4 linked regions of the Homo sapiens genome follow. The protein of the gene in region 3 purifies or fractionates together with the protein of the main gene of each other region. This does not show direct contact. Each region holds a gene or a part of one and is shown on either strand. Other genes may lie near its edges.

Evidence for each region.
Region 1: the proteins of USP48 (region 3) and RNF123 purify together in Homo sapiens (affinity purification with mass spectrometry; 3 studies listed by BioGRID and IntAct, with this or other methods). This does not show direct contact.
Region 2: the proteins of USP48 (region 3) and NDUFAF7 purify together in Homo sapiens (affinity purification with mass spectrometry; 3 studies listed by BioGRID and IntAct, with this or other methods). This does not show direct contact.
Region 4: the proteins of USP48 (region 3) and UBA6 fractionate together in Homo sapiens (co-fractionation; 3 studies listed by BioGRID, with this or other methods). This does not show direct contact.

Annotation. Positions count from the first base shown.
Region 1 is NC_000003.12:49,713,549-49,720,592, reverse strand, and holds part of RNF123 (E3 ubiquitin-protein ligase RNF123), read right to left. Parts: coding exon 7,006-7,044; intron 6,856-7,005; coding exon 6,768-6,855; intron 6,684-6,767; coding exon 6,596-6,683; intron 6,504-6,595; coding exon 6,419-6,503; intron 5,019-6,418; coding exon 4,879-5,018; intron 4,772-4,878; coding exon 4,583-4,771; intron 4,492-4,582; coding exon 4,416-4,491; intron 4,201-4,415; coding exon 4,116-4,200; intron 3,765-4,115; exon of another isoform or gene 2,643-3,764; coding exon of another isoform or gene 1,128-2,642; exon of another isoform or gene 909-1,127; intron 678-908; exon of another isoform or gene 83-677; coding exon 1-82. Other genes in the region: AMIGO3 (amphoterin-induced protein 3 precursor), read left to right, coding at 1,128-2,642. UniProt on the Homo sapiens protein: Catalytic subunit of the KPC complex that acts as E3 ubiquitin-protein ligase. Promotes the ubiquitination and proteasome-mediated degradation of CDKN1B which is the cyclin-dependent kinase inhibitor at the G0-G1 transition of the cell cycle.
Region 2 is NC_000002.12:37,241,658-37,248,657, forward strand, and holds part of NDUFAF7 (protein arginine methyltransferase NDUFAF7, mitochondrial), read left to right. Parts: coding exon 1-134; exon of another isoform or gene 135-767; intron 768-977; coding exon 978-1,036; intron 1,037-2,205; coding exon 2,206-2,316; intron 2,317-4,394; coding exon 4,395-4,538; intron 4,539-5,798; coding exon 5,799-5,972; intron 5,973-6,477; coding exon 6,478-6,693; 3' UTR 6,694-7,000. UniProt on the Homo sapiens protein: Arginine methyltransferase involved in the assembly or stability of mitochondrial NADH:ubiquinone oxidoreductase complex (complex I).
Region 3 is NC_000001.11:21,677,762-21,682,157, forward strand, and holds the end of USP48 (ubiquitin carboxyl-terminal hydrolase 48), read right to left. Parts: intron 3,074-4,396; coding exon 3,047-3,073; intron 1,679-3,046; coding exon 1,656-1,678; 3' UTR 537-1,655; downstream 1-536.
Region 4 is NC_000004.12:67,691,156-67,698,199, reverse strand, and holds part of UBA6 (ubiquitin-like modifier-activating enzyme 6), read left to right. Parts: intron 1-1,492; coding exon 1,493-1,555; intron 1,556-7,044. UniProt on the Homo sapiens protein: Activates ubiquitin by first adenylating its C-terminal glycine residue with ATP, and thereafter linking this residue to the side chain of a cysteine residue in E1, yielding a ubiquitin-E1 thioester and free AMP.

The sequences.
Region 1 (7,044 bases), on a different chromosome or scaffold from region 3:
CTCTGGCTGTCCCAGGAGATAGCATATTGAGCGTAGCTGGAAGCAGGGATCTGCCAGGAGCACTGATGTGGCTTGCTCTCTCCTAGGTAGGGGAGGGTGCAAGGGCAGTCAGAAGGCTTGGGGCCTGGCTAAAAGTCTCTCTTGGGATTGCCAATGAGGAGTGCCATGGCTCGTACATGATCACCCCCCCTGCATCCTTTCCGTCTCCCTGCTTCCCAAACCCCAAGTCCTGTATTCTAGTAAGGTGCCACACAGCCTGTTTTTTTTTTTTTTTTCTTGAGACGAGTCTCGCTCTGTTGCCCAGGCTGGAGTGCGATGGCACGATCTCGGCTCACTGCAACCTCCACCTCCCGGGTTCAAGTGATTCTCCTGCTTTAGCCTCCCGAGTAGCTGGAATTGCAGACGCCCACCACCACGCCCGGCTAATTGTTGTATTTTTAGTAGAGACAGGGTTTCACCAGGTTGGCCAGGCTGGTCTCGAATTCCTGACCTCAGGTGATCCACCTGCCTTGGCTTCCCAAAGTGCTGGGATTACAGGCGTGAGCCACCGCGCCCGGCCTGGGGTACCACTTTAAGAAGGCTCAGGCGAACCACCTTAAGATAGTGAGAGTCTGCCTGCCCCATAATATTATCAGTCCTTCAAAGTCACTTCAAATAAACACTAACAGCAGCTTGGAGACATTCTTCCAGACTCCCCCTTTTACTCCCCGAGGAAAAACGAGCGGCGGAGAGCTGCCAGCCAAAGGCTGACGGGGACTTTGGGGTTGGCCTTGCTCCCCATCTGGCGGTCATGCGGGGCCATTGGGCACAAAGGGATGTAGCCGCCCCGCCTCCTCAAACGGGAACCAATAGGAGCCCGGGCCCCGCCCCTGGGGGGAGTATTTAGGAGCCGATCAGGAACTCGCTTGGAGAGGGCTAGCGAAGCCGAAGGGAGCGCGGCTAAGAGTGCCGCACCGCCTCACAACCTGGGAACCGGAGAGTAGGGGCCGTCGGCTGGCAAGAACCCGCCGTGCCTCCTCGGCAAGGGCCATCCGGTGCCACCCATGTCGCACTAGAGCAGAAGAGGGTGAGTCCTGGAACTGCAACCTGCACAGAGCTGCTCTGTACTGTCCCTGGTGGTCGCCGCCATGACCTGGTTGGTGCTGCTGGGGACACTGCTCTGCATGCTGCGCGTTGGGTTAGGCACCCCGGACTCCGAGGGTTTCCCGCCCCGTGCGCTCCACAACTGCCCCTACAAATGTATCTGCGCTGCCGACCTGCTAAGCTGCACTGGCCTAGGGCTGCAGGACGTGCCAGCCGAGTTACCTGCCGCTACTGCGGACCTCGACCTGAGCCACAACGCGCTCCAGCGCCTGCGCCCCGGCTGGTTGGCGCCCCTCTTCCAGCTGCGCGCCCTGCACCTAGACCACAACGAACTAGATGCGCTGGGTCGCGGCGTCTTCGTCAACGCCAGCGGCCTGAGGCTGCTCGATCTATCATCTAACACGTTGCGGGCGCTTGGCCGCCACGACCTCGACGGGCTGGGGGCGCTGGAGAAGCTGCTTCTGTTCAATAACCGCTTGGTGCACTTGGACGAGCATGCCTTCCACGGCCTGCGCGCGCTCAGCCATCTCTACCTGGGCTGCAACGAACTCGCCTCGTTCTCCTTCGACCACCTGCACGGTCTGAGCGCCACCCACCTGCTTACTCTGGACCTCTCCTCCAACCGGCTGGGACACATCTCCGTACCTGAGCTGGCCGCGCTGCCGGCCTTCCTCAAGAACGGCCTCTACTTGCACAACAACCCTTTGCCTTGCGACTGCCGCCTCTACCACCTGCTACAGCGCTGGCACCAGCGGGGCCTGAGCGCCGTGCGCGACTTTGCGCGCGAGTACGTATGCTTGGCCTTCAAGGTACCCGCGTCCCGCGTGCGCTTCTTCCAGCACAGCCGCGTCTTTGAGAACTGCTCGTCGGCCCCAGCTCTTGGCCTAGAGCGGCCGGAAGAGCACCTGTACGCGCTGGTGGGTCGGTCCCTGAGGCTTTACTGCAACACCAGCGTCCCGGCCATGCGCATTGCCTGGGTTTCGCCGCAGCAGGAGCTTCTCAGGGCGCCAGGATCCCGCGATGGCAGCATCGCGGTGCTGGCCGACGGCAGCTTGGCCATAGGCAACGTACAGGAGCAGCATGCGGGACTCTTCGTGTGCCTGGCCACTGGGCCCCGCCTGCACCACAACCAGACGCACGAGTACAACGTGAGCGTGCACTTTCCGCGCCCAGAGCCCGAGGCTTTCAACACAGGCTTCACCACACTGCTGGGCTGTGCCGTGGGCCTTGTGCTCGTGCTGCTCTACCTGTTCGCCCCACCCTGCCGCTGCTGCCGCCGTGCCTGCCGCTGCCGCCGCTGGCCCCAAACACCCAGCCCGCTCCAAGAGCTGAGCGCACAGTCCTCAGTACTCAGCACCACACCGCCAGACGCACCCAGCCGCAAGGCCAGCGTCCACAAGCACGTAGTCTTTCTGGAGCCAGGCCGGAGGGGCCTCAATGGCCGCGTGCAGCTGGCAGTAGCTGAGGAATTCGATCTCTACAACCCTGGAGGCCTGCAGCTGAAGGCTGGCTCTGAGTCCGCCAGCTCCATAGGCTCCGAGGGTCCCATGACAACCTAGACTGCCCAGGGCTCCCCCACCCAGGCCCCCACCCTCTTGCTGCTCGCCCTGCTCCCTGCTTCGGTCCAGAGAACTGGCAGATACTGGTGGGAAGCACTGTGCCTGGCCCCCCAGCTTCCTGTATGGGCCTCGAAACACAATGGGCCTTCTCGCTCACTGGTAGAGACAGGGGTTGTGGTCCCCAACCTGCCTTCTGCTCTGCCCCTGCACAGGACCCAAAGGCCCCAGGCCCTGCAAGGTGTGCTAGTTCCTGCTTTCCCGCGGACTTCCTAGTGCCCAAATGCCCTGTGAGGCTGAGAGACCCAGGCCCCTGTGGCTTTCAACACAGCACAGCTGTGGAAGTGGCTGTGTTCTTCTACAGCCTGTGGAAGAACCCCTGTAGCAGAGCCTCCCGTCCACCCTCAGGGGCTGAGACAGCTCTCGAGGAGTGGTGCTCAAGAGCTGACGCAGGGCCACCTCCCCTTCCCAAGGGGGTGGGAGGGAGTGGGCCCACAGGGAAAAGAAGGCGGCTCTGAAGGAAGATCTCGCCCACACCCCAGGACAGAAAGAGGAAACAAGCCCGCCCTCTGGTGAAATGGGACTCCCTCCATCCACCAACACCCAACCTCCTGAAAGCTTCACAACTTCACGCAGAGTCCGGTGGGCAGGCACCAGGCAGGAAAGGCTCCTCAAGAGGTTCCTGGTGGTCTGGCCTAAGCCCCAGCCAGAGGCCCTGCTCTCTCTGGCCTGGGGCATCCACCCGTTGTTCTGAAGGCAGAGCCCATTCTGTGGGCTCACAAGACACAGTGAAGGGGATCATGGCCTGCACCCCTGCTTTTCAGCAGTAAAAAGCCCGAAAAGCCTGGCGAGCATGGCCGAGCTGGGAGGGCCGAGCCGGAACTCCACGTCCCTCGAGAGCAGGAGCCTCTTAAGGGCTGGCACTGGTCTCAGCCTAATGGCTGAGGCGGTACCCTGGCTTCATATGCATCTCACTGCTCCCACTGCAGGGGGGCAGGGAAGGGGGGTCTGGGAGCCCTTCATGTGTGGGGGCCGAGCTGGGGGCCCCCATGGCCATCCTGGACCTCGCTGCTCCAGAGTTTAATAAAGGTAGCACATGCTTATTGCTAGAGCCTTTGCAGACAATGGCGGTCCTCCGTGTGTTCAGCTCTCCTGGCGGCCTGGCCCTGTCCACCACAGGACGGCACACCCTCCGGAGTCCTGCCTCCCATGCCTGGCCTGAGGCATGGCCACAAGCCAGTGGCTCTGTGGGCCAGGGCCACCTGTCCTGCTGGGGTCCCAGATTCTCCTACTTAGAGCAGCTCCGTCTGCCCCCTATTTAGGCCGTTCACACCTCACCACCTTCCCTCTGCCTCAAAACCTGATGCTGAGGTCCATTTTCCAGATGAGGAAACTGAAGTACCAGGAGGCCCTGTCCAGCCCCTCCTCACCAGACACACCCAACTCCCACAGGGGCCCACGGTCCCCAACACTCACTCTGAGGCTGGGCCACGCACCAGGAGCTGCACCAGGATGCCCGTCACTGCCACCAGAATGGGATAGTGGTCCACGCTCTCTAGGCCTGAGGGGAAGGGGAGGAAAGAGATGAGCCACCCACATGCTCCTGCTTCAAGGGCTCCAGGCCTGCCCACTGCCCTCTCTACAGAAGGGTGAGCCGAGACTGCAGAGCACCAAGTCTGGCTGTCCGGGGGCAGAATGTGGAATCAGGCCTCACTGTTCCTAGCAGAGGAACCGAGGCCTGTAGTGTGTTGGGGTGCAGGGCATCTAGGTCCTCACCAGGCAGCCGTAGGGTGACCACACGATCAAACAGGTTCCTCTCAGCTGTCACCCGGTTCAGCACCTGGTTTAGCAGCTGTGAGGGGAGCAGGAGTCCATTGGTGGATGGGGAGCGTCATCAATGGGGCATCCCCAGGGTCCCACCCTTGTTGCCCAGATGGCCACACCTGTGCAAGACGCCGCAGCAGCATCTCAGAGGTAGGCCGGGTCCAGTCAAGGAATATCTCAGGCACCAGTGTGATAGTCATCTCCAAGACACGCAGCAGGCTGACCGAGAGGTCAAAGCAGGTGGCACATACCTTGAGCTGCCGGCTGTCCACAAAGTTCCGCTCCAGGCGCTCAGCAGCCTGCTGGATCTGAGCCACCAACACGTGGGCATGCAGTGGTCAGCACCTGGCTCTAGCCCAGGACCAGGCCTCATCCCTTGCACCACCCTAACCCACGAGGCCCCACCACAGCCCACCTCTTGGATCATGCCAATGAATTCAGAGAAGGCCCAGTTGAGCTGATTGAGGACGCTGTTGAGGAAGCTGGGTGCCACATCAGGACCCTGCTGTAGGAGGTCCGCCATGTGCTGCTGCAGCAGGGTGGAAGGGCAGGGCTCTGCAGGGGGACAGGAGGCGGCATCATCAGGGACTCCACTGCAGTGGCCTCTGCCTGTTTGCCTCTGTCCTCGCCCATTGAGGCTTTGGTATAAGGACAGAAAGATGGCTCCCTAGGAATGCTCAGGTCATGAAAGCAGGGGACAGAGGACAGCTGCCTTGGAGTTAGTTGGGACAGAATCTGTCCCCTCCTTCTACTAGGCAAGCCCCAGGCTGCAGCTGTGTCCAGCCCTGACACCACACCATCCACTCCAGGTCCAGAGCAGCCACACAGCCACAGCCTGACCCTCAGCAAGTTCTGGGTCGCACACCCTTCAGATAGGGTCAGACCTAAACAGGGCGGCTTAGATGCTTCCCCACCGGCACCAAGGCCAGCTCCTCCAAGAGCCTACTCTAAGCCCTGCTGCAAACCTGCTGTCCTCTACTGTCCTCTGCTGCCCTTGGCCTGGCCTTGGCATATGGCCGAGGTGGTGGGCACCAAGTCTGGGCTGGCAGGCAGCAGTAACCGGAGCCCTCAGCTGCAACGGGCCTGGCGCACCTCCCCACCAGCTTGATACAAATCAATAGTTCCCGCAGCAGCAGGACAGGCCTGGCCCCACTGCCGCTCTCCACTTGCAGCTCAGTTCCGCCCTGGACGCAGGACCACGGCAATTGGCAAGGACTTGCTGTGTGACTTAGCAGAAGACACTCAGCCTCTCTGGGGACACCCTTTGGACCAAAACACTGCCCACAAGGGCAGAAACAGACTACATGAGCCAAGAAGAGCCACCATGAAGGGTGAGGACAGTGTGTGGCACACCTGGCACTCTGCAAGGGCCAGGCCTAGGGGAAAGTCCTTGCTGGACCCTGGAGAGAGGGCACAGCCTCTGCTCCCAACTAAATGTCCCTTCCTCCAGGAACTCTCGTGAATACCCTCTGGGGACCTGGCCAACCTCCAATCTGTGCTCCCAGTGGACTCAGGTGTCCAAGGCCTAAGCCAAGGCCAGGGTCTGCCACCAGCAGATAGCAAAAAAGAAGCAGAAGGACATGGTGCTGGGACAAGGCTGGAGGTCAGGGAGCTAGCTTAAAGGGCAAGGGACAGAGTATTCAGTCTGCATGAGCTGTAGCAGGCCAGGAACATGGTGCCGCCTCTCACCATGACCCACATAGAGCATCCAGGCCCAAAGGGCACATGTAGGTAAGACTGTGGGCAAGGCTGGGGAGGGGGAGTCCCATCCCGAGTATCCTTGGGCTGGAAGGAAGCAGGGAAAGTGGAAACCCCAGGGGACACGTAGGGAGTCTGGGACCCAATGGGGGAACCAGAGAGGGGCTGGAAGAAGTGGAGAGTCTGAAAGAACCCATGGGTAGGAGGTAAGCGCCCCCGCCTGCCTTGCCCAGGACTCGCCCAACCCAGATACTCACTCTGGAGGCTGGGCAAATTGGCGTCCTCAAGTTTGGTTTTCAGCAGATGTGGCAGCCGTGTATAGCGGTACCCGAAGCCACAGCCCTGTGGAGGTGGGGGTCAGTGCCCAGGTCAATGGGACAGCGCACCCTCTCCCTCCAGCCAGCCTCAGCCACTTCCCCTCGAGTCAGGCTTACCCTCCAGAGCCGCACCAGGATCCAGTTGGTCTGGGCCCAGGGCCGCTGCTCATAGGGCGCCAGGAGGTTCCTCACCATGGCGATACGCCTGTGAGGGCAAGGAGGGGAGAGACGGGGTGAGGCTGGGCATGGTGCTTGTGGCCAGGGTGTGTGCCCCCCAGGCCCCACTCACTGCTCCTCGGGGATTCGCTCCACAGCCCGCAGGGAGTGTGGGTAGCACACGTAGCTGGCCAGGGCCTGCATCAGTGAGTCTCGGATGTCTGCGGGGACACACCGTGCCTCAGCAGGGGCTTGGCATGAGCCCTGGACCCATACTTCATGCCCACCTGGCCACATTTTTCATAGAAGAAAGCCGACCAGAGGTGCCATCCCATCCCCCTCCCCCTGTACCCTCTGTAGGGGCCCCTCACCAGTGCCCACAATGCGTGCGTCGGCAAAGTGTTTGGCGA
Region 2 (7,000 bases), on a different chromosome or scaffold from region 3:
GATTCAAGCATTGACACTGACTAAAGAGAAGGTCCCGTTAGAGCGAAATGCTGGATCCCCAGTGTATATGAAAGGTGTCACTAAGTCTGGGATTCCAATTTCCTGGTACCGAGATCTGCACGATGTTCCAAAAGGTAATTACCTTTATGTGGATTAATGAAAGAATTTTGATCACAACCCTCACAGTATTGATGGGACTGTAACTTTTTACAGCAATATAATAGATTGAGTTACTGCTGCCAAGTCCCTTATCCATAGAGAGTAGCCTACTTTTTTCTAGAAAAGAGCATCTTAATAGAAAATAAAGTTGCCTGACATTAAGTAGTAGTTTATTTCATGAAGCTTTGTAAAATCCCAAACAAAATGTAAATCTCCTTTGTACTTTTGAGTATTTCCCTATAGCTAGGGTTGTACCGATGACGGAGCAGCCCAAGGCAGCTGGGGCTGATGGAAGCAGTGTTAGTAGGTGGGTTTAGTTCAGTTATAGAGTCTTTTAAAAAATCCTTACTTGCCTAAAGACAAGCAAGGTGTGGGGGAAAATCCCTGTACTAGTCAGGAATACTGACTAGTATTGACTAGTTTGAGTCTTGACTCAAAGCCAAAGTGGGGGTACGATCTTGGGTAAGGGATCTCAAGCCATTCCTGCCTCAGCCTTCTCAGGCTGAGAAGCCCGATTTTATGAAATCAAATTCCCTTCCAGCTAACAACTCTGACTTCTAATTTCTTTCAAGCCTTGTGATGAATAAAAGCTTTAACTGCTATTTCAGGTATTTCCATTTTCTGACCCCATTTATGTGTAAAATAAGAATAGTAATAATTGTTCTATGTTCTGCAGTGTAAGTTTTCCATGAAGAGGTAGATAATTCTGTGGTAGTGATGATTATGGAGGAAGTAGGCATTTTTTTTACAGTTAATATTCAAAAGAATTAATTCCTGTGAAATGTGGAAACATTAATTGTTTTCCTCTTTTTAAATAGGGTACAGCTTTTATCTTGCACATGAATTTTTTGATGTTCTTCCTGTGCATAAATTTCAGGTATTGAGGGGGGAAAAAAGTCATGTCTATAATTGAATACAAAAGGCATTGTGTTGCCAATGTTTATGGTATTTATTCAGTATACAAATTTTACTTGTTGAGGTTATTTTTAACTATTATTTGGAATTTTGGTACACAAATAATTCAAAAGCAAAAAATGAAATATTAATGAGAATTGTTAGTTCTCCTGGGATAATTATTAAGAATTCTTAATTCTTCTGATTTGAAGAAGTAAGGGAATGAAAAATGGTAAGATGGTAACTGGCTGTGGTGCAATGAAGGATTTACTTAAGCAAAAAAAAAATTTTCTTTTTTAAGAGATAGGGTATTGCTATGTTGCCCAGGCTGGTCTTGAACTCCAGGGCTCAAGTGTTCATCCTGCCTCAGCATCCCAAGGAGCTGGGACTACAGGTGTGCGCCACTGCACCCAGCCAACCTTAGCACATTTTAAAAAATTATAGATTAAACTTTTTTGGGCCAGGCATGGTGGCTTACACCTGTAATCTCAGCACTTTGGGAGGGCGAGGTGGGTGAATCACTTGAGGTCAGGAGTTCAAGACCAGCCTGGCCAACATGACAAAACCCTGTGTCTACTAAAAATAGAAAAATTATCTGGGCTTGGTGGCACGTGCCTGTACTTCCCAGCTACTAGGGAGGCTGAGGCATGAGAATCACTTGAACCCAGGAGGCAGAGGTTGCAGTGAGCTGAGATTGCACCACTGCACTCCAGCCTGGGCAACAAAGCGAGAGCTTGTCTCAAAAAAAAAATAATAAAACTTTTCTTCATTCTTTCTGTGAGGAGATTTAAGATTTGGTGATAATGTATATGTACTGGTAATTTGTGAGGAGAAGAGCAGCTCTCATGATCCTGTAGTAATTTGTTAGTAAAGCTTCTGGCTGTTCTTCCTGAGTCTATTTCCGTTTTTGGGGTACTTTCCATGCTGCTGATTTTATCTTCCACAGCGTCATCTCTGTTATTGTTTCTTTTGCATCGATTGGTCTACTCATTGTTCAAAGGCAATGAAGTAATGAATTTAAGTAATTTTAAATAGTAAGTTCTCTGTAAATGTTAGTTACTTATGGTAAGAGGAGAAAAAGCTATTTTTGGTAGAAGCAATGTAGAGAACAAACTTGCAAAAATTTGTTTTTATGTGTTATTTTGTGTTTAGAAAACACCACAGGGATGGCGAGAAGTATTTGTTGACATTGATCCACAGGTTTCTGATAAACTGAGGTTTGTTTTGGCACCTTCTGCCACCCCAGCAGAAGCCTTCATACAAGTAAGAATATGCTTTTTTAAGTTTCTTTTATTGCTCACAGAATCTTCAAAGTCTTATTTTCTGAGTTACTACTTTAGAGTTTTAGAGTTCCTTTACAGGAAGAGTTGCTAGTAGCATACGAGGTGCTTTTTATTGACAGTGAAAGTGCAGAGGAGCTAGAGGCAGGAGCATGGGTTAAAATCATTTCTTAAGTGTGTGACCTTAACGTCATGTAGTAAGAGAAAGTAAGTAACCGCTTACTCAGCCAAGTCTCTTACTTTCACTGCTTATCTCAGTTTCATGTCAAATGGTAATGGTATTGTCCACAGGAAGAGTTTACATCTGTGAAAGCAATGTAGTACAGACTATAGTAAATTAACAATAACAGCTAACGTTTGTTGAGTACTTTGTGTTACTCTGTTTTCTCATTTAATTCTCAAAGCAACTATATTAGGTAGGTTCTATTATTATCCTTCTTTGGGCTACAGCATGGCTTTTATCCCATGCTTCCACACAGATCTCAGTTTGATTCGGCCAGAATGGTAGAATTACTACTGCTTTCTGTTGATCTCAAGGAATCATTGCAAGAGCCTGTCTATTGTGGCTTGTTTAAAGGTACAAAAAAATCCCTGTACTTCTCAGGAACGTCCAGGCTTCAGACTGCCTCTTTTTTTTTAATCCTTTTTTTCCAGCTCAGAAGATGATTTTTACTTTCTGGACCTTAACTGAGAACTTCTTACTTAGAAATTATCAGTTTTAAAAGCACAAGAGCTTTTAAACTTAAATGTATGAATTAAGTTTTGTTAAGTATAAATTTAAATGTCAGACTGAACACTTATGAACACCTGTTTTTTCATAGTATAGCAATCTAAGTTTACCTGAATGACATATTCATAGAACTACCAAGAACTAACCTCCTGGCCCTGGGAGTTCATTTAGTTCTTGACCTAATTAGTATTCACTTAGGAAGGGAGGGAGCGAATATTCTCTTTCACTTGAATGAGATGCGTGGTAATACATGTCATCTTGAAGAGTAGCCTAAGATAGAATGTCAGCATGATCAGCGTGTCCACTGATGCCTGATGAGGCTGACTTCATGGTTTTTATAGTTAAGCCACAGTAATTTGATTGCACTATTAGCTAAATGGTTAGTTATATTTAATCCTCACAATAAACCTACAATATCTATAAGGAAGAAAACAACTCAGAAAGTTTAAGTAACTTGTCTACCAGTAAGCATAGGAAGAGCTGAGATTTAACTTCATCTGACTCTATGCCTGTTACCATAGGCAGACATCAGGGCAGGTCATTACTGCATTTCTATAATAAGGTGTTAGGAAGGAGTACAAGTTAATGTATGTTTTCATAATGAAGGGAAAGAAATACCACATTTTCAATCAGATCAGGAAGTAGTGAAATTTCATATATACTAGTCAGGTTGACAAGTGTTAATACTTAGTGTGATTTTGCTTTTTAAGCTAGTACACACTTATTGTGGCCCCTTAGTTAAGTGGACATCTTGGGGTAATAACGGTTTCAATACATTGGCACTAGTTTATAAGCCAGCGTTTCTTGATGTAGGGCATATCATTGGGATACTTTCTGGCACAACAGAGGGCATGATAATATAATTGTCTAATAGGGTCTGCTTCGTGTTATTGGATTTATACCATTTGTTCTTTCAGCACAATATTTTCATTGACTGTTATGTGCCTGGCACTGTTCTAGGCAGACAAAAAAAATCCCTTTCCCATGCTTTCAACCTAGAGGAATGTGTTTATATGATTTGTGATACAAAAGTAATTTTACATTAAATGATAATGCTCTAGGCCATCTGGGGGGATTGGGAGGGCATTTGCCTTTTTATAAAAGAGATTAAAATGTCTTTGTATATCAAGTGGGATAGCATCAAAGAACTAAGGAGTTTTGTATAATAAAAAGGGAGTCAGGTGAAAAGTTGAGTGTAGAGAACATACTCATATTAAGAATTTATTTTTATTAAAACTAAGAAATGCTCATTGAGGAAAAACCTGAAAAACCGTAAGGAAGTCATTCTTTTGAATGATGCATTTTGACTCTTGCAATGATCCCTTTACTAGCATGACGAAACAAGGGATCATGTTGAAGTGTGTCCTGATGCTGGTGTTATCATCGAGGAACTTTCTCAACGCATTGCATTAACTGGAGGTGCTGCACTGGTTGCTGATTATGGTCATGATGGAACAAAGACAGATACCTTCAGAGTATGTATAATTCAGTAACATGATTTATCAGAATTTCAGTGTTAGATCTGAAGCCCATTGAAGAGCTTTGATTTCTACAGTGCCTGGTATTGTTGTATTACATTATTTTATAGTTAACATTAATTCATGTTATTGTAATTCCCCTTAACCCTAGTTCTTACTGCTAACACTGAGTCTACTGTCCAGCCCTCCTTTAACAGGATCTGAATTGTGTACATTCTTCCTTAGTTGTAGAACCTATGTTTATATAAATCCAGATAAGCAGCTGAATAATACAAATGGAAAGATTTTCTTCACATTCTTAAACCTATCTGTAACCCCCTTCATTCAAGAAAAATTTTGGTACTTCTTTACAGATTTAAACTACCTACTGTAATCATTCTAGCTTTTTCTATCATATTTTCAACATTTTTTCCCTTTCCAGATGTATTCTTTTACACTGTTCCTAAACATCCTTTCTTAATGATCTTTGAATATAATCAATTCTATTCAATATACTTTAATTGAAAAACATTTAACTAAATGCTCTTAGTCATTTTCTAGGTCTGTGGTTCTTAATTTCTAACTTTATCTAAAAATAACCTGGATAGTTTGTTGAAAATACTCATTCTCTAGCCTTACCTCCAGGATTCTGACTGACCAGGTCTGGTTAGGGTCAGTAATATATTCTCAGGTGATTTTTTTTTAAGTAATTTCAACTTTTATTTTAGATTTAGGGGGTACATGAGGCAGGTTTGTTATTTGTTACATGGGTATATTGCATTGACTCTGAGGTTTGGGGTACGAGTGAGCCTGTCACCCAGGTGGCAAGCATAGTACTCAGTAGATAGATTTTCAGCCCTTGTTCCCCTCCTCCTGTCTCCCCTCTAGTAGTCACCAGTGTTTGTTCCCATAAGTATGTTCACGTGTACCCAGTGTTTAGCTCTAAGTGAGATGTACATGTGGTATTTGGTTTTGTCCCTGCATTAATTCACTTAGGATAATGGCCTCCAGCTATGTCTACGTTGCTGAAAAGGACGTGATTTCATTTTTTTTTATGGCTGTGTAGTAGTTTGTAGTGTATCTCAGGTGATTCTGATGCATGGTTGATGCATATACTTTGTAAAACACTGCCTAGGTGTTCCCTGCCTAGAGAATTAATGAGAGCTCTATTCCGTCACCTCAAGCATTAATGTAAATATTAAATAACTTTAATATGATAGCATTTCTTTAATCTTAATAACCATAAAAGGGCAAAAATCTGATTTCTTTATGTTCAAGGGGTTTTGCGACCACAAGCTTCATGATGTCTTAATTGCCCCAGGAACAGCAGATCTAACAGCTGATGTGGACTTCAGTTATTTGCGAAGAATGGCACAGGGAAAAGTAGCCTCTCTGGGCCCAATAAAACAACACACATTTTTAAAAAATATGGGTATTGATGTCCGGCTGAAGGTAAGGTTTATTTTATTTCACTGTTATTAAGTACTTTCATAGTATTTCAAAAATTACTTTAAATAGTATGTTCACCTGGCCTTAATGCTCTTGTAGTTAGCCAATCCTTGGTATTCCAGTCTTTTCAGGTAGTATAGGATTTAGTAACTAGTCTGGTAAGTTTTATGCATCTCCATGGGAGGTAGCATTAAGACTTCCAAATAGTGTTTTTGTTTGTTAAGAAAACTGCGTTTATGGGTATGAATTTTCTAACTGTTCTTCTGAGAACACCTAAACCTTACTGTAGATCAAACCCCCTGAGGATATTTGTTAAAAATGCAAATCCTTAGGTTTGTTTCACACCAATCTACATTTTTAATAAGTACTCTATGATTCTCAGGCAGGTAATCAGAAGTCACATTTTGAGTGCTGTTTTATTGGAATATTTGAGAGTCATTAGTATTGCTGCATGTAACTAGGAATCCTGTCTTCTGGTTATTTTTGCTAAGAATTTTTTTCTTTTCAGGTTCTTTTAGATAAATCAAATGAGCCATCAGTGAGGCAGCAGTTACTTCAAGGATATGATATGTTAATGAATCCAAAGAAGATGGGAGAGAGATTTAACTTTTTTGCCTTGCTACCTCATCAGAGACTTCAAGGTGGAAGATATCAGAGGAATGCACGTCAGTCAAAACCCTTTGCATCCGTTGTAGCTGGGTTTAGTGAACTTGCTTGGCAGTGATATTTCAGCTTGGACATTTTACCCTTCAGTCGGCCCAAGAAATCAAAATAAAGGAAACACATTTCATATACTGCAGGTAACAAAAGTCAAAGTATTTTATCTTTTCACAGCAAGAACAGTCCATGTTGTATATAATACAACCAACATTATAGAACTTTTAGGGTTGTGACTGGCTTTGGTGCAAATGTGTGCTCAAGCTAATAAGTTATTGTGAAACTGAGTTTCCTTTAACTTACAAAGCTAGTTGCCATATTTCTATTTTATTTTAAAAAGTAAACATGCGGCTGGGCGTGGTGGCTCATGCCTG
Region 3 (4,396 bases):
GTTTGTGTTATTAGTTTTAGGCTCCTGCATTCATTTCTTTGGAGCTAATAAAACAATGAGATCTAAAAATCAGGATCCATCAGCTCAACTTCAAGTCCTTCCCCTGTGCCAACCTCAAGGCCAGAACAGTTGGTCCCTTGGTTCCACTCCTAGGATGGTTTCTCAGGGGGCTGTGTGCAGCTCTCACCTTCCCCCATAGATAGGCTCATTAGAGACCCCCTGCCTCCTCAGGGGACACAGACTGAAGACATTAGAAACACAGAGGGGAAACACAAACACGAAGTTAGAATTTTACCAAATGGCCGTAATTACTCTGACAAAAGGAGCTATTCAAAAGGGATGCTGCCAAGGTTATCGGGTCTCAAATCAAAATCTGCCTTCCCCATCCATGATCTGAGTTCACATTTTCATGAAAGGGGGAAAAAGCCTTGCACAAACCCAAGGCCAAGAAAAGTGTTAACAAGAGAGATGCCTAAGCTAGCATCTCAGCCACAAACTTACACAGACGGACTCAACAGAGAAAACTTTTTTTTTTTTTTCAAAGGAAAAACTCCAGTCTTAAGTTCAATTAAAAAAACCCCTTCAATATTCTTAAGAATATTGCTTCGGTTACGTGTTGCTAAGAATGATAATCCTGAGTTGGATGGACAGCACATCCATATACTTTTTTCCTTTTTTAAACAATGATCTAAGAGACCCTCTCAGGGCATTTTGGAATAATGCTTTCAAAAAGAGAACTGAGGTCCAAGAAACAGTGACATGGAGGACAGGAAGAACAAATTTTATAGAAACCTTGTGTTATCCAAATGTACTTCAGTCTGATTTACTCTTCTGATAGGTAGTCAGATTTTTTATTTTCAAACGTGCCAGGTACATTTCCCACTTTTGAATAACAGCAAAACCGGAAGAGGATGCTTTCACACATAATAAATGTTCTCCATCCTTTCTGAAATGCACCAAAGCAAAAAGCCTCTGAAGTCAAAACATGAGACATAATTCCTTGCTCATTGCAGGAGACATGCAGGTGCCCCCTCCTTTACCCAATACCAAGAGACAGACGGCCGGGCAGGTGTAAGGCGGGTGGCGCTGCAGCTGACATGGAGAAGAGTCTAAATCTGAAGACACTTTTCCACACTTAGGACAAGTTCTTCACTTTCATGCTTTATTGAAAGTAGAATATGAATCAAAGACAGGCATTGGTAAGCAGGTTATGTCTCTAAAATTACTTTTCGTTCAGAGCAGAATGTTGTCCCATCTACTTGATACAATCCTTTATGGACCAACGCATCTGGTATGAAACTCGAGCAAGGAAATATAACAGAACTTTATTCCCCTCCCACGACTATAAATCTCATATGTAAACATGATTTACTATTACTGCTACTAAACTTGTTCCGTCTTTACTTGCCCCCTCCCACCCACCACCCCCCTTAAATATAAAATTGGAAACATTTCCTTCAAGTCTGATGTCCATCAGTGCAATCTGCTTTATTTGACATAAGGCATTTGGGACAGTCACGTTTGAATGGATTTCTGCCTTTTGGAAGGGGCATGTAATGGTTTAATTCTTAAATCCACCTTTGCTTTAATGCCCTAACATGTCAAACTCCTCTTCCCCTCTGGTCATTTCTTAGCAGTCAGCAAGTATTCAAAGATTAATGTCCAAGAAGACCAGTACCTGGGAAAAGAAACACACGTGGAGGGATAGTTGTGAACTACAGATTAAAAGTTCATGGATTCCATTTACCAAGAACACATCATCAACAGGGAGCATCAAATTTAATAAATGAACACAGTCGCACCTTGGTGTGGGAGGATAAGACAAAATACCAGCAGACTCCAGGCTCTCCGCTAAATCACATTTTTGTTGAAAGCCATGTGCTTCCTAAGTGTATCTTCACACAAACTAACCAGATTTTATTGATTCTTTCATTTAATGACCATTCTTCTTTTCTGAGAGTTTCACTCTTGTCGCCCAGGCTGGAGTGCAGTGGTGCAATCCTGGCTCACTGCAACCTTATCTCCCAGGTTCAAGCATTCTCCTGCCTCAGCCTCCCAAGTAGCTGAGATTACAGGCGCACGCCACCATGCCCGGCTAATTTTTGTATTTTTAGTAGAGATGGGGTTTCACCATGTTGGCCAGACTGGTCTCGAACTCCTGACCTCAAGTGACCCACCCGTCTCAACCTCCAAAAGTGCTGGGATTACAGGCGTGAGCCACCATGCCCGGCCAATGACCATTTTTCATAAAGACGTTTTTTGCTTTGTTTTGACCCCATCAGGAGTCCCTTTGTAATGGTAGCATGCAGACAACACAGCTGCAGCAAGAGGAAGACTTTATTTTGGCCAGTAGATTTGTCTCTCATTTGCTTTAGCAAGGAATAGCTGGTATGTGATTCAAAGTCATTCCTTAGAAAATCACAACCTGCCAGGGGCTTCTGGAGTGGCCAGCAAAGAATCAAGACAGCAACAGGAAAATCCGAAAACGTCAGAGGTCTGTATTTGATGACTTCTTGAATATTATCGGTGTGCACAACTACATGGCCCAGATGTAGTACGAGCACCACCGTGTCTCCTCTTGAAGTAATAATCCAACAAATGCCTTAATGCTAAGTGATTAATTAAATCTTTTCACTGGACTTGATAAAACCTGACAAATTCTTGTGCCACTAATTCTTAATAGTTACACACTGTTTTGCTCTAGGAGGGGACTTGATAGGAAGAACTGGGAAAAGGTTAAAAATAAATCTTGAAATGCCACTAGCTAATTTCCCAACCTCCCATAAAATGAGAAAGGGAAGGCCAAATGGACATCTGGCAAGAAACAGTTCTAACACAAAAGCCCCAGCTGAGGCCCCATTTGAGGCCTGAGTGTTGAAAAAGATAATGAAGAAGCTTGAGTAAGAAATGCATTTAACTAAAATTAATTTCAGTCATGAGACTCAGATTGGATTAAAATTTAAAATCAAATTATAGCCTTCGCTTTAACAGAAAATTACAGGATGACTCTGACATTCATGAACAAAACATGACAAATGTAACTTACCTTTAAACCCTTCTTCTGGCATACAAACTGAAAAAAAGAAAAAAAGAAGAATTCCAAATTGAAAAGATTGTCGTGACAGACAGTAATATCATTTCAATGCTTAAAGACAAAAGTTTAAAATAACTTTTGATTACCTTTGTCACCTGTAATAATCATCTTTGAAGTTACGGATGTTACTAATTTCAGAACAATCTTTGTTTCTGTTTTTATCAAAGCAATACGTATGCATCATTTAAAAAGTCAAATACTGACAGGACAAGGTTTGTAACTAGGGCACACCTAGTGCACGACTCTAGGAGTGGCCTGGGAGGAAGCCATGTAACTGACTCCTCTGGAGCTGTCTCTCTCCCCTTCCTCCTCCCATTCCCAAGTTCTGGAAGGAGTCACTTTTGACTCACACAGCAGCTTCTTCTGGTATTTAGCCTATTTCTAAATAACATGCTTTTCATAATTTTATTTACTTTTTTTTTTTGAGAGGGTGTCCAGCTCTGTCACCCAGAATGGAGTGCAGTGGCATGATCTCGGCTCACTGCAACCTCTGCTTCCTGGGTTCAAGCAATTCTCCTGCCTCAGCTTCCCAAGTAGCTGGGATTACAGGCACCCACCACCACACTTGGCTAATTTTTGTATTTGTAGTAGAGACAGGGTTTCACCACGTTGGCCAGGCTCGTCTCGAACTCTTGACCTCAAGTGATCCGCCCGCCACAGCCTCCCAAAGTGATGGGATTACAGGAGTGGGCCATCGTGCCTGGCCTACTTCATAATTTTAGATAAAAATCTAATAAATTCTTCAGTGAAGGATACAAACAGCTGTTTTACCACTTACATAGCACCTGCCCCGACCCATCCTCCTGATGAAGTGGTGTTTGTTGTTGTTAAGCCAGTCTCCAGCGCTGGCATTACTTTTTACGCCATTAATACTAGTCACAGTTGAATGCCTTGGTGCACCTTGGTTATATTTACTACATGGTATGACTTGGTCTTTCTGGGCTTGGTAACTACTGAATTACTGATGTGTTTCATTTTCTCTGTATTTATCTCCAATTCACGTGTAAATTCTTAAAGACCTGTAACCTCTTGAAGACAGTCATCATCCCTTCCACTTTTCCTTGTGGCATCCCTTCCTGAAGCTCGCATCCCACCACTCCAATATGGATCAGGTGTCTTCGCTGCCTGCTGAAGAACAGTAGTTCTGAGACTTCCCTTCACCATCTTCTAGGGCATCTTATCCTAGGCTGATCTGCTATTTACTGGGTCCACTGTTGATTCTTTCTTGATTTAATGTTTAAGAAGAAGAACACATCCTCACACAGTATCATGGCAGACGGTGCATGACAGATCAATCTTTTG
Region 4 (7,044 bases), on a different chromosome or scaffold from region 3:
GTGTGTGGTATTTGTGACACAATATTTTAATAGAGGCTTAAGTGACAAGAAGTCAGCTATTCCGAGATTTTAAGAAAGAACATTCTAAGCAGAAGAAATAGGTAAAAACTCTGAAATGAGAGCAAGCTTGCCTTCTTGCGAAACAGCAAACAAGTCAGTGTGGCTTGAAGATAGTAAGCGAAAACGGAGACTGGTGGGAGTTGAAATTGGAGAGATAATTGGGAGACAGGACACATTGGCCCTCTCAAGCATAGTGAGGTGTTTGAATTTTGTTTTAAGAGTAAAGGAAATCCACTGAAGGGTAGTCCAAATTCAGGGAATAATTTCTGACTGCATTTTAAGATATTTAGACTGTTTTATGGAGAATAAAGGGGAAGGGCAATACTGGAAATAAGGAGACTAGCTAGGTCTTTGAAATAGCCCAGGTGAAATGTGATGATGGTTTGGCTTGAGATTGTACTGATTGAAATAGTAAGAAATGATCAGGTTTGAGATATCTTATGAAGGTAGAGCTAACAGGTCTCAGATGGAGAAAACTGGGGAATGATTTAAGCAAGAAGATCCCTAGATTTCAGGCCCAACCCAGTAAATGATGGTAGCGGAAAATGAGTTAGGAAAGACAGGAAGAATAGATTAAGCAGGGGTAATTGAATTCTCTTTGGAGTTTGTTATGTTTGTGATACCAGTTAAGACATCAGAATAGTTATTGTTTTGGCAGTTGTATACAATCTGGAGGTCAGAGGAAAGATCACACGTGGAGAAATAAGTTTCAATATAATCAATATATATTCATCAATAGGATTGAATGAGTTTATCTGGGAAGACTGTATATATAGAGAAAGTTCATGGTACAGAATTGCTGAAATACAGATCCATTAGAATATATGTACCAAACAGGCGGGCACAGTGGCCCACGCCTGTAATCCTAGCACTTTGGGACGCTGAGGCGGGTGGATCTCTTGAGGTCAGTAGTTCAAGACCAGCCTGGCCAACATGGTAAAACCCCATCTCTACTAAAATTACAAAATTAATTGGATGTGGTGGTGTGCACTTGTAGTCCCAGCCACTTGGGAGGCTGAGGCATGAAAATCGTCTGAAACCAGGAGGTGGACGTTGCAGTAAGCCAAGATCGTGCCTCTGCACTCCAGTCTCGGTAACAGAGTGAGACTCCCATCTCAAAAAAGAAAACAAACAAACAAACAACAACAACAACAAAATATATATATATGTATTTATGTACCAGTGATAAAACAACACCTGAGATCTGAGAATAAAAGATGATGAGCTCTGTAATCTTAAAATTTACACAGGATAGAACAAGCAATCCGATAATTTAATTTCAGGCCATTTAAAAAATATAAGTAAAGTGGTTGTTAATAAAATATATGTTTGGTTTGTGAAAACCTTTAGTAACTGGTGAATCTGATCACACAAGTAATCAAATATTACATTATAAAATGTGAATATTTAATAACCATGTTTTTTTTTCCAGCACAAATAAAAATTTGCCCATTATGTCAACAGCATCTGTGGAAATCGATGATGCATTGTATAGGTAAGAATCTCATAGAAACTGAAACTTATTTTCCCCATTAATTGTTCTCAAATAATCAAGTAGTCTCTTTGAAGATACCATTCAGCCTATGCAGAATTATATGTGTGTGTGTGTGTGTGTGTGTGTATGTATATATGTATGTGTGTATATATATGTGTGTGTATATATGTGTATATATGTATATGTATATATATGTGTATATGTGTATATATATGTGTGTATATATGTATATGTGTGTGTATATATACACACATATATATAAAGAGTTCCTCTCAAGTTAAAATTAGGGTTTCTGTGATTTTTTTTATCTACATTCGGATAATATTTAAATCTCAGTTGTTTTAGGTTTAGGTGATAGGACTAAGAAGGATTTTGCTGCCCTTGCAAAATAACCCTTTCATTTTTGGACAATAATACGTATTTAAGTTCTTGATAGTGCAGGAGTTGATGAAGAATAATATTTCACTTTAGTCATACAATAACATCTAGAGAATATTACTTCATTGTAATCTCATTAAAATATTTCCTGTTCTGTAATTTATAGACAGTGGAGAAATACTGTGTGATTGAAGAGTTGTAATTTGAATGGAATTTGATGGGACTTTTAAAACTATGCTTTTTCAGGAAATTGGAATACTTTTTTAGTAATTAAAGTATTGTATGATTGAATAGTTGTGATTTGAATGAAATTTGATGAGACTTTTTAAACTATACTTTTTCATGAAATTTGAATACTTTTTAAAGTAAAGAAAAAGATGCAGAGTCAATAATGGGCACTTTATTAGGAGCTAATACATACCATCTGGCATGTTGAGTCCAAATCCTGTTTTGTACTCTATGCTTGGGAAAAGAGATAGAAGACTAACAATCTTGCTCATGTGAAAATTATTTTAAAGATGATTTCTTGATTATAAAATATGGTTTAGAAGTCACCTTAAGTTGTTGTATAAGGGTTAACTGAATTAGTACATTTAAAGCACTTAAAACAGTGTGTAGCACAGGGTTATCTATTATTATTAAATGCCTGGTACTGTTTTAGGTATTTGGATTACAGTAGTGAGTTTTTAAGACCATACATTTTTTTGATAGGAGTGGCAGACAAACAGTTAATGGTAAGTGATTTGAAGAAACTATGACAGGTTAATGAGTTAGGCAGTGACCTAAGGATAAGAGTAGCCATTTTATTGATAGGGTGATCAGAAATGATGTGTGTGATATTTGTAATACAATATTTTAATAGAGGCTTAAGTGATAAGAAGTCAACTATTTCAAGATTTTTAAGAAAGAACATTCTAAGCAGAAGAAATAGTGTAAAATCTCTGAAATGAGAGCAAGCTTGCCTTCTTGCAAAACAGCAAGCAGGTCAGTGTGGCTTGAAGATAATAAGCAAAAAGGGAGAGTGGGACTCTTACGTTGGGATTCTTAATCTATAATTATATTCTTAATGTCCTTTTGGTCATGTTTTTCTTGGTTTAACAAATGGCACCTCTTTGAGATAGTATTGACTAATTTTATTCATTTTTTAGTTTAATCCTTGTGAAACTTTTTTAATGTCCCTCCAACCCTATAATGCTGATAAACATAATTTTCAGTAGGCCAGTGACTAAACTTTCCATTTACAATGCTACGTAAGTAGGCTGCAGTTTGCTTTACTGAGAGTTATAGAATATAGCAGTTTAGCTGTTATTATTAGAGGTAAGCCATTTTCTTTTGTTTGACGGAGAGTATCTTTTGGTGTAGCTGTTAGCACTTGGTATGCGTGTCTTATTGCAAACATCTAGTTGTTTACCAATGTGCATATTTGAGTTTTAATATCTTCCTTAAGAATTTGTCATAGTGAGGGCAGGAAGCCAGAAATTTATGTGGGTACTAAAAGAGTGAATTATTAGGGAATACTAAAAGAGTTACTGACTACATATAGGTTTTCTTAGTAGAAATACAAAGATGTGGCCAGGCACAGTGGCTCATGCCTGTAATCCCAGCACTTTGGGAGGCCGAGGCGGGTGGATCACGAGGTCAGGAGATCGAGACCATCCTGGCTAACACAGTGAAACCCCGTCTCTACTAAAAATACAAAAAATTAGCCGGGTGTGGTGGCGGTGGCGGGCGCCTGTAATCCCAGCTAGTCGGGAGGCTGAGGCAGGAGAATGGCATGAACCGGGGAGGCAGAGCTTGCAGTGAGCTGAGATGGCACCACTGTGTTCCAGCCTGGGCTACAGAGCAAAACTCCATGTCAAGAAAAAAAAAAAAAGAAATACAAAGACCAAAATGCCAAAATGTGAGATTTTCACACAATAACCAGCTCTTATTTTCTTAGATTTTAAAAATTAACTTAAATGTTTGAGGGTTTTTTTTTTTATAGTGACTGAATCTGAAGATTTGGTAGTTTTGTATTTTTTCTTTTTTTTTTTTTTTTTTTTTTTTTTTTTGAGATGGAGTCTTGCTCTGTCATCCAGGCTGGAGTGCAGTGGCGCGATCTCGGCTCATGGCAACCTCCGCCTCTTGGGTTCAAGCAATTCTCCTGCCTCAGCCTCCTGAGTAGCTGGGACTACAGGCATGCACCACCACACCCAGCTAATTTTTGTATTTTTTTTAGTAGAGGCGGGGTTTCACCATGTTGGCCAGGATGATCTCAGTCTCTTGACCTCATGATCTGCCCACCTTGGCTTCCCAAAGTGCTGGGATTACAGGCGCGAGCCACCGTGCCCAGCTGTATTTTCTCTTTTTAAAAATCTGTATCTGTTGCTTATGGGGACTAGTATAAGACCTAGGACTTTGGACAATGATTTATTTTAGGGACAAGGCATGAAATGAGGATCCTTAGCCTCTTAATATCTCAGGGAGATAGATTTCATCAGTAAGCTTGATGAAGGTAGGGTAAGATAAAGATAAATTCCAGAAGTTCTCTTTTCTCTCCGTTCTCTTTCACACAGCCACAGTTCCGACCATTTTGTCTCATAGTACAAGTCCAAATACTATAGCTTACCGAGTTATTTTGAACATAACTCCAACTTACCTTCTAAAAAGTTATTATTGTAGTAAAAACACATAACATGAACTCTACCCTACTAACAAGTTTTTAAGTGTGTAGTATAGTATAGTTGACACTTGAACAATGAAGGAGTTAGGAGTGCCAACTCCCCTACCACCCTACCTCTTGTGCAGTCGAAAATCCACATATGACTTTTGACTCTCCCAAAGCTTAAATGCTAATAGCCTTACTATTGACTGGAAATTTTACTGATAATGTAAATAATCAATTAACACACATTTTTAATATTATATGTATTATATACTGTATATATATATATACACAGTATTCTTAGAATAAAGTAAGCTAGAGAAAATAAAATGTTAAGAAAATCATGTAAGAAAGAGAAAATATATTTATTGTTCATTAGATGGAACTGGATTATCATAAAGGTCTTCATCTTTGTTGTCTTCATGTTGAGTAGGCTGAGGAGGAGGAAGGGGAGGAGTTGGTTTTGTTGTCTTAGGGGTGGCAGAATCAAAAGAGGTGGAGGCAGAAGGGTAGGGAAAGAGAGGCAGGCACACACAGTGTAACTATGGAAATATGTAACTACTATGTGACTTTTTTTGCTTTCTCATTTCTGGAAAAATGTTTCTATACAATACTGATCCTCCTGTCATTTTCTTTAGTTTCTTTTTGGTGCCCCTGTTGTAGAAGGGTCCATGTCATTAAAGAAATCAATGCAATCTTGAATCGTCGGAACCCTTCTGCCAGATTGTCTGATGTCAGTAACAACGATAGCATCTTCAATGGTATAATCTTCCAGACTTTAATGATGTTCTCTTTCTTGGGGTTCTCTTCCATAGCATTGACAATCCTTTCTATAGAGTACCTTGTGTAATGAGCCTTAAAGGTCCTTTATGATGCCCTGATCTAGAAGCTGAATTTGAGATGTTGTGTTTTGAAGCAAGTAAACCACTTCAGCACCTTCATTGTTGAACTTTGGGGTTCTGGGTGGCCAGGTGTATTGTCCAATAGCAAAAGAACTTTAAAAGTTCTTGCTGGCAAGGTACTTCCTGACCTCAGAATCAAAGCATCAATGGAACCAATCCAGAAAAAGGGTTCTTGTCCAGGCCTGCTTGTTATGTAGCCGGAGGACTGGCCGCTGGTGTTTATCTTTTCCCTCCAATGCTCAGGGGTTAGCAGCTTTATATGTAAGGGCAGTCCTGATCATAAACCTGAAAGCATTTGCAGAAAACAGTAGAGTTAACTATCCATTTCTGCCTTAAATCCTGGTGCTTGCTTCTCTTCCTTACTAATAAATGTCCTTTGTGGCAATTTTTTTCAAAATAGAGCACTTTCTTCTACATTAAAAACCTATTCAGGTAGATATCCTTTCTCTTCAGTGATTTTCCTTATGGCGTCTAGAAACTCATTGCTGCCTCTTGATCGGCAGAAGCTGCTTCTCATGTTGTGTCTGACTTTTTTTTAAGACAAACCTCTTTCTAAAGTTATCAAACTATCCTTTGCTGGCATTAAATTCTACAGCTTTACTGCTTGGGTGATGGGTGCACCAAAATCGCACAAATCACCACTAAAGAACTTAAGTAACCAAACACCACCTGTGTACCCCAGTAACCTATGGAAAAAAAAGAATTCTACAGCTTTATATCCTTTACCTTCTTTTTGCTTTAAGTGGTCTTATAATGACTTCGCTTTTTCTCAAATCATGTTAGAGTCTATGACTTTCTTTCAGCAATCCTGCACCCATATCAGTGCTGCATTTTCAATATAAGATAAAAAAATCTTTCACAAAAAGTGTAAGGTTTTCATACTTGCTGGTGTAGTTACAATGATGGCTTTTCTTTTTTTTTTTTACAATGGTCCTTCCACTGGATTCATTTTATCTTGAAATGTCAGGCAACCATAGCTGCAGACCTCAGTCTACAGTACATAATCAAGCAATTCAACTTTTTATTGTAATGTCATGACTTTTCTCAGCTTCTTGGGAGCACTTGCAACATTACTGGTGGCACTTTGTATGGGTCCCATGATGTCATTCAAGGTTTACAGTATTGCACATTAAACATGATGAAAAAATATGCAAGAATCTCAAGACATCACTTTTTCCTGCAATATTCAATTTACTGGAGAGAGGAACTGCTCAGGCAAAGATGAATAGAGTCACATGTGCTTTAACCAGATACATCACTTAAGCTCACCACAATAGCAACTGGAAGTAGCTACAAAATTATTACAGTAGTGCAGTATGTACTACAGTGACTTTTATGCACTTATGACTGAATACTGCATCTTTACATCTGTTTACATTCCTCTTAACTGCAAATGGCGACATCTATGGTCTGTAAGTGTACGCATAGTTTTGATAAATTTTAACTTTTTATAATTTGTGTATATTTTATGGTAGTAAATGATAAAATAGACTAATATGTACATAGATTTCATGCATTCATGACATTTTCTTAATTTTTGGGTATTTCTAGGCTACAAAGTTCAT